Regions from separate parts of the Homo sapiens genome. Here region 2 is linked to region 1. The links come from fine-mapping of genetic effects on gene expression. A gene starts in region 1. The other region holds a variant in brackets. All regions are shown on one strand. Distances are from middle to middle. Region 1 holds the start of EZH1 (enhancer of zeste 1 polycomb repressive complex 2 subunit). Region 2 overlaps EZH1 (enhancer of zeste 1 polycomb repressive complex 2 subunit).

The links. PIP is the estimated chance that this variant, and not a neighbour inherited with it, causes the effect. A credible set is the group of variants that fine-mapping cannot tell apart.
Region 2: its variant is the best candidate, but not a certain one, in a credible set for the expression of EZH1 in whole blood (TOPMed, PIP 0.55).

Annotation. Positions count from the first base shown.
Region 1 is chr17:42,742,816-42,746,815 of GRCh38, forward strand. EZH1 (enhancer of zeste 1 polycomb repressive complex 2 subunit) reads right to left here and starts at 2,225. Exons shown (of 21, transcript NM_001991.5): 1 at 2,196-2,225. RefSeq lists a silencer at 1,803-2,382.
Region 2 is chr17:42,714,526-42,719,061 of GRCh38, forward strand. EZH1 (enhancer of zeste 1 polycomb repressive complex 2 subunit) reads right to left here. Exons shown (of 21, transcript NM_001991.5): 9 at 3,929-4,092; 10 at 3,451-3,542. It also overlaps the pseudogene RPL34P30. Among named protein-coding and RNA genes, the nearest start is that of MIR6780A, 8.6 kb to the left of the region's middle. The variant C/T (reference allele first, on the strand shown) is at 1,969.

The DNA of each region.
Region 1 (4,000 bases):
TATAGATAGTCCTTTCTCCTATTATGTATGTGCGTTTTTAAGTACTTCTCTCTCCCTTTTTTTTTTCTTTTTTGAGATGGAGTCTTGCTCTGTCACCCATGCTGCAATGCAGTGGTGCATGTCGGCTCACTGCAACTTCCACCTCCCAGGTTCAAGCGATTCTCGTGCCTCAACCCCCTGAATAGCTGGGATTACAGGCACCCACCACCACGCCCAGCTAATTCTTGTATTTTTGTAGAGAAGGAGTTTCGCCATGTTGCCCAGGCAGCTCTCGGACTCTTGACCTCAAGTGATCCGCCTGCCTTGGCCTCCCAAAGTGCTGGGATTACAGGCCTGAGCCACTGTGCCAGGCCTCCTTTTTTTTTTTTTTTTTTTGACAGAATCTCACTCTGTTGCCCAGGTTGATGTGCAGTGGTGCAATCTCGGCTCACTGCAACCTCCACCTCCCGGTTCAAGCGATTCTAATGCCTCAGCCCTCCCGAGTAGCTGGGACTACAGGCGTGTGCCACCACACCTGATTAATTTTTGTATTTTTAGTAGAGATGGAGTTGTCCCATGTTGCCCAGGCTGGTCTCAAACTCCTGGGCTCGAGTGAACGGTCCACCTCAGCCTCCCAAAGTGTTGGGATTACAGGCATGAGCCACCGTGCCAGGCTTTTTTTTTTTTTCTTGAGACAGGGTCTCAGGTGCTGTCACCCAGACTGGAGTGCAGTGGCAGGATCAGAGCTCATTGCAACCTTGACCTCCCAGTCTCAAGCAATACTCCTGCTTCAGCCTCCCAAGCAGCTGGGACTATAGGAGAAGGCCACCACATCTGGCTATTTTTTTTTTGTAGAGATGAGGTCTCGCTATTGTTGCCTGAGCTGGTCCCAAACTCCTGGGCTCAAGCTATTCTCCTGCCTGGGCCTCCCGAATGCTGGGATTTCAGATATGAGCCACCGAGCCCAGTCTAAAGTACTTATCTCCTAACACACACTCTCTCCTATGTAAGTAATCTCTTTTATCAGTGGCATATCTGGGGATTCCAAGACTTAAAATAGACAAGCTTTCACAGAAACCTCTAATAGGGTTAGCACCTTCTCAGGCTGGAAACCTCCTTCAATATCAGTTTCCTAAATTTAAAAAACATGGGGTGTGGGAATTTTTTTATTCAGCGGCAGTATGGCAGCAAACGTGGAGGAGACTCGCGTTTTCATTGCCATCCTTGCACCCACCTAATTGTTAGTGTACCTGAGCTCCTTTGCTTTCATCCTCCCCTGCCAAGCGTCAGGTTCCTATCGGCCTGGGCTACATCACATACAACCCTGTATTTCACCCTCCATATTCCTTCACATTCCACGGGGGGCACTAACATCCTTCAGGTATCCCTTCCCTTCCCTGCTCAAGAAACAATTCCTCAGTAGTCACTTTTTATTGAAATAAAAGTTTGTCCCACATTTCCTAACAGGCATGTCCCAAATACAACACCTTGTCTGTGCTTCAAGGCACTTTTATTTATATCATTTGATCCTCGGTTGAATGGTGGGGGTGAGCGATCATTGGCGTGAGACCAAAAGTCTGGAGTGAAGGAGATTCTTGCTCAGGGCCAGGCCTGGGGTGAGGCGACCGAGGCACCCAGGACGCACGTGAGGAGGCGCTCACTGCACTTGCGCGACCCTGAGTCAGTGCTCCTTTACACTTTGTGCCTTGGGAGCCTTACTCACCTCACCCTAGTCCCGGCCTTGTTTTTACTGCTACCCCTCCTCAACATCCCCGAAAGCCATCGCAAGATCAGCCCCGGTCTCTAGCCCTCCCCAAGCACAGCTCCAGGTCCCCAGAGTCCACCTCGCTAAAGGCCCCCGCAGGTGCCACCGCCCTCCCGCGCCCTTTGGGCGCTGGGGCTCCCGCCCACCGGCCCACACCGCCATCCAACGGGATTCCCCGTCCCCGAGCCCGCCCCCGCCGCTCCTCCTCCCGGGCACACAGCCCTCGCAGCCCCAGACGCTGTCCTCGCCTGGGTCTCTCTCGCCCCGTCGCCCCCATTCCCCCACCCTCGGAATGAGGAGGGGCGCCTGCTACCCCCGGCCAGGCAGGCAGTGTGTCCCTCGGATTCCTTCCAATTTCCTGATCCCTCCGCCTCTCCCTCCCTCAGGCCCAGGGCGGCGAGGGGAGGAGGCCCGGCCCCACCGCCCGGCCCAGGCTTGTTTACTCACTCACCCTCCATCCCGAGCCGCGGGTCCCGCTGCTAGGACGCATGCGCGCCGCGGCCCCACCCCTGCGCCGTGCCCCGCCCCGCGCCTCCTGTCGGCGCGTGCGCATTGACTTACCCGTGCCGCGCGGACGCACTACTGTCATTTGCCGCCAAAACCCCGCACTCAGGAGTCCTGGCGGGTGCAGCCTCCCAGACGGCTTCCAAAGCGGCGCTGGCAGGGGAGGGGAAGGGCTCTGGGGAAACCTTCGCAGAGCCACTAATATCTTCCTGAAGACCCTATTCAGCGGATTTGCCATCCCCACGCGCTGGTGACAAGCCACATCTCACTTCAGCGTTTGAAGCCAACCCAGATCACCTTCATACCGATGCTTCACCCCTACCAGTTCTCCAGACACCGGTCTATGGGTTCTAAGCCCTTTATTTATGTCTGATCTCCCTATTTCTGTTCATAGTTTTCTAGTCACTTAGAATCAAAATTATAGCCTTGTATCGAAATAAATCCCCACAAGACACCTGCTAGTTACAAAGGGAAAAAAATAGCAACTTTACAGATAAGAATCTGTCAGACACCACCTTAACTAAGTGATCAAAGTTAGCATCACTAGTGATAAGAGGTATTGTTTTCTTCTTCTTTTTTTGCCGGGGGGCGAGGCTGGACGGAGTCTCGCTTTGTTACTTACACAGGCTGGAGTGCCGTGGCGCGATCTCGGCTCACTGCAACCTCTCCCTCCCGGGCTCAAGCAATTCTCCCGCCTCAGCCTCCCAAGTAGCCAGGAATACAGGTTCGTGCCACCACGCCCGGCTAATTTTTGTATTTTTAGTAGAGATGGGGTTTCACCGTATTGGCCAGGCTGCTGTCAAACTCCTGACCTCAAGTGATCTGCCTACCTCGGCCTCCCAAAGTGCTGAGATTACCGGCATGAGCCACCACGCCCGGCCTCCCTCTTCTTTTTAAGGAGACAGGGTCTTGCTGTGTTGCCTAGGCTGGTCTTGAACTCCAGGGTTCAAGCCATCCTCCCACCTTGATTTCCCAAAGTGTTGGGATTACAGGCATGAGCCATTGCCCCCAGCTGAGAGGTATTCTTACCAGGTCCCTCTGAACATGATGCAATGAGAAGCGCACAAAATCACTTCTGTGGTATTCTTGACGAACACGCATAAGCTGATTTTTTGTGCGTGTTGTTTGTTTGTTTGTTTTGAGACAGTTTCACTCTTGTTGCCTAGGCTGGAGTGCAATGGTGCAATCTCGGCTCACTGCAATCTCTGCCTCCTGGGTTCAAGCGATTCTCCTGCCTCAGCCTCCCAAGTAGCTGGGTTTACAGGCATGCACTACTATACCCGGCAAATTTTGTAATTTTAGTAGAGATGGGGTTTCACCATGTTGTCCAGGCTGGTCTCGAACTGCTGACTCAGGTGATCCCCCCACCTCTGCCTCCCAGTGCTGGGATTACAGGCATGAGCCACAATGCCCAGCCTGCATAAGCTGAATTTAATTATGAGGAAACATCAGACAAATCCAAAATGAGAGACAATCTACAAAATAACTGGCCAGTATCTTCAAGTGTCAAGATCATGAAAGACAAGGGGTGAGAAACCATCTCAGATTGGGAGACTGAGGAGATATGACAACTAAATGTAATGTGTGATCCTGGCTTGAATCCTGGTCCAGAAAAAGAACACCAGTGGGATAATTTGATGAAATTAGAATAAAATCTCTAGATTAATTAATAGTATTTTATCAATCTTATTCCTGGTTTTAATCATTGTAATTGAGGAAGTTTGATGGACATATAGGAACTCTACCATATTT
Region 2 (4,536 bases), 28 kb before region 1:
CTATGGTGGATCCGTGTGTGCTGAATGTATTGGTGCAGGAGCAAGTGTGCTTTCCTTAGCAAGCAGCAGAAAATTGTTGTGAAAGTGTTGAAGGCACAAGCAGAGTCAGAAAGCTCAATTTAAAAATGAAGTTTTTTTGAGTAATAAAAATGAAAAAAAAATAAAGGTTAACTATCATTAAGGGTATCTGGAATTTGGAATAATATACAGTAAGGCCTAAAGGAAATTCCAAAAGAGAAGTTTCAAAATTAACTGAACCTGATATTATGTGCCTATGCTGTGTATGAAGTATACAGTATCAATTATACTATTTTAAACATTTATATATATTTACATATAATTTTTATATATTATATATATAATATATAATATGGAAATATATTATATAATTATATAATTTATATAAATATAAAATATATATTTATATAATATATAAATATATGAAATTTATATAAATATATTTATATATAATTTATATAAATATAAAATATATATAATTTATGTAAATATAATTTATATATTATATATGTATTTATATACTATATATTACATGTATTTATATATTATAGATTATATGTATTTATATATTATATATAATAGATTATATGTATTTATATATTATATATTATAGATTATATGTATTTATATATAATATATATCATAGATTATATGTATTTATATATAATATATATTATAGATTATATGTATTTATATATAATATAATATATAATAGATTATATGTATTTATATATATATATATTTTTTTGAGACGAGGTCTTGCCCTGTCACCCAGGTGAGTACAGTAGCATGATCTCAGCTCACTGCAGCCTTGACCTTCTAGGCTCAACTGATCCTCCCACCTCAGCCTCCCAAGTCCAGTCCAGCTAATTTTTGTATTTTTTATAGACATGGGGTTTTGCCATGTTGCCCAGGCTGGTCTCGAACTCCTAGGCTCAAGCTATCCACATGCTTCAGCCCCCCAAATTGCTGGGATTACAGGCGTGAGCCACCATTTTAATATAATGGCCAAACATTTTAACATAAATAAAATCAAGTTTCCAGACCTAATTTCTAGGTTATAAGAAAGAGGAGACAGAAGAACACAGAAATGACACTGTGAAAAAACAACAGATGAATCCAGGATGTGGGTCATCCTACAAGACAACCAGCCTGGAACTTTTAAAAAGATTTTAAAAGTGATAGAATTATTTGAGATTAAAAACGAGTAAAAAGACATAACAAGGCCGGGCGCCTTATTACACCTGTAATCCCAGTACTTTGGGAGGCCAGGCAGTCTGATCACCTGAGGTTGGGAGTTCAAGACCAGCCTGACCAACACAGAGAAACCCTGTCTCTACTAAAAACACAAAAATTAGCTGGGCGTGGTGGCGCATGCCTGTAATCCCAGCTACTTGGGAGGCTGAGGCAGGAGAATCGTTTGAACCCGGGAGGTGGAGATTGTGGTGAGCTGAGATTGCACCATTGCACTCCAGCCTGGGCAACAAGAGTGAAACTCTGTCTCAAAAAAAAAAAAAAAAAGACATAATAACCAAATATGATGTCTGACTGGATGATCCTGGTTTGGAAACAAAACAAAACAAAACACAACACAAAAATACCTATTCTTGGTACAGCTGAAAAAAAAATTGAATATATTAATAGAATGGGTAATAGAGGATACTATACAATTTTTATTAATTGTCCTAGGTGTAATAATGTGGTTATGTAAGAGAATGTCTTTATGCTGAAACATTTACCAAATGAGCATCACAATGTCTGCAACTTATTGTCAAATGGTTCAGCAAAAGATATACATACGCAAATTTATGGAGAAAGGAGATACAGAAAAAAATGTTATCAAATCCAGGAAGAAGGTATCTTTCAACTCTGCATGATTGAAAATGTTCTTAGTAAACAGTTGGGGGAAAATAGTCCAGCATTATATTTAATATGCACTCAAACCTAAAA[C/T]GCAATAAAAGAAAAATTGTGCATACATTATCTCTGTAAGTTAAACATGCATACATTTCAGGCATTGGCAGCATCTTCGTAATACATGTACAGGGTATCAAGGTGACTCCTGTGAGAAGGGCAATGACCTTTTGACTTATATAAATGCTGGTATGTTGACATAACATGGCATATATATTTTTTTAAGGATGAAGTAATTTCATTTTATTATTATTTTTTTTTTGAGATGGAGTCTCACTATCTCACCCAGGCTGGAGTACAGTGGCGTGATCTCGGCTCACTGCAGCCTCCACCTCCTGGGTTCAAGCAATTCTCCTGTCTCAGCCTCCTGAGTAGCTGGGATTACAGGCGTGCGCCACCACACCTGGTTAATTTTGTATTTTCAGTAGAGACAGGGTTTTTCCATGTTGACCAGGCTGGTCTCAAACTCCTGACCTCAGGTGATCCACCTCCCTCAGCCTCCCAAAGTGCTGGGATTATAGGTGTGCACTACGACGCCTGGCTGAAAAACATGGAGTAATTTTAAAAGCATGATCTGTGGAGTTAGACCCTGACTTGAATTTCATCGCTGCCATACCGCTGACTTATCAACAAACTTTAGGCAAAATATATAACTTTTGTAATCCAGTTTCCTCTACCTCATGACACTGTTATAGGATGAAAATAAGACAAGGTATGTTAAGGGTCTACTATGATACTTGGCACATAGGAAGGAGTCAATACACATTAGGAAAAAATAAACCCAATAACGTCTATTCTTTTGCTTTTACAGTACGGCCCATTTTCCACATGTGTGCCCAACAGCATTCTCTACCATCTTTCCATCTATTATCCCACTAAAGATGGTTCCAAAAGCACTTGGCTGGTTGTATAATATAATTTTAATAGGTGGCAGAAATTTTATCAAGGTATTTTATTCATCGCCTAGGCTCATCCTATTGTGTAAAAAGCCCAACTGTGTCTTTGGCAAGTCCAGTTGATCTATTTCCTTCTAGCTCTCAATATATGGCTTCCCCACAGGTATGCCAGACCATTTATGCTGCTTCTTAAGGTCTGTCCATCAGGGAACGGTCCATCTGGTTGATCACAACAAGACATCAGCATCATCACGTGCTATTCGTCTCATAGTTATATGCATTTATAACAAGATAGCAAAGAAACTAGAGTGTGTACCCACCCCCCCAGCATACACTTTGCTCCAATTCTAACAATACAGTTTTAGGCTCTGAAATCTAAGCAGATGATATTTAGAGCAGGCAAGCCTTTAATGATCTTCGAATCTGCACTCCATCAGACTAACTTTATAGTGCTACCATGTCTGGGGAGTTCCTTAAGAGCGGTCCCACAGTAACTGGGGAGCTCCTTAAGAGCAAAAGCCATGTTTTATTTGTGCTATATGACCCCCAGAGTGCTGTGTACTGGCTCACGTGGCTTGTGTTCCCAGAATGAAGTTAATAATGCCAGAACAGCTTAAGAACATACCAGCAAAAGGAAGCAGTCTGTGCCACATGGTTCTGGTTCAATCTTGATTTCTTTATTCTTGCGTTTATATACATTAGGGGTGGCATGAAAAGCTGGAAAACAAAAACTGTCTTGTTGCCAGTGGTCTATCCACTTGACAAGATGGGGAGAAACAAAAGTGAATTAGAGAGCTATTGTAGGAGTTAGAATTCGATATAAACGGCTACCATCAGGGTGCACAAAATTCAGTCATTTCTGACATCAACACAATGCTTTCAAAGCTAAGAGGTACTGAGGGACAGATAAGTTGCTAGTTAGTCTGTCCCTATCATGCAAAGCATGTTGCACTATAATTGAGCAAGGGAAAATAGAACTGGCCCTTTGTAAAACGTTAGAACAGAAGCCAGGAACTCTATACGAGAAACCAGAACAAAGAGAAGGAAATGGTGGCTGGGGATGGAAGAGAGGAGAGCATTTCAAACAGAGTAGCCCCACTCACGGTGAAGGAAGCAGTCGTATTTAAAGCAGCGCCGGCAAAAAAGTGTGTGGAAGGAGTGCAGAGATTGCTCCCGCTGCACAGACTTGGCATTGGGGCCATCGATGTTGGGTGTGCACTGAGGGGGAAGTGCATTGGGGTCTGACATCTCTGTTAGTTCTCGATACCTATTTAAGAAAAGAGAGATAAGAGTTCCTCCGAGGAACTGCCTCCACTGAGGAAATACAGATTGGGTACTGACAGTAGCTCACCTACGGTCTGCCAAGGGAGGATGGGTGTTTTTTATAGGTCTGGTTGATAAGAGAATGGTAGATAACTAGAGTGGGTCCACCATTGTAATTATGCTGGGTTGGGCAAATGTTGGAAAGTAAGGGGAGGGAAGGATTTGTTAAGATGGTGCTGGAGTTAACTCTCCAGAAAAATGGCAGAGTAAATGTTCTCTGCCCAGACTCACTCAAAAGCCAGTATACGATGACCCTTAATATAGTAAGGGGGGCATTTAGAGGTAATTGAGTAAGCAAGAAATAATCAAATTGCGGGCAAATCATAATGCCCTTACCATAAACAAAGCTTTTTACTAACCAAAAATTAGGAGGGAATAAAGGTTTTGT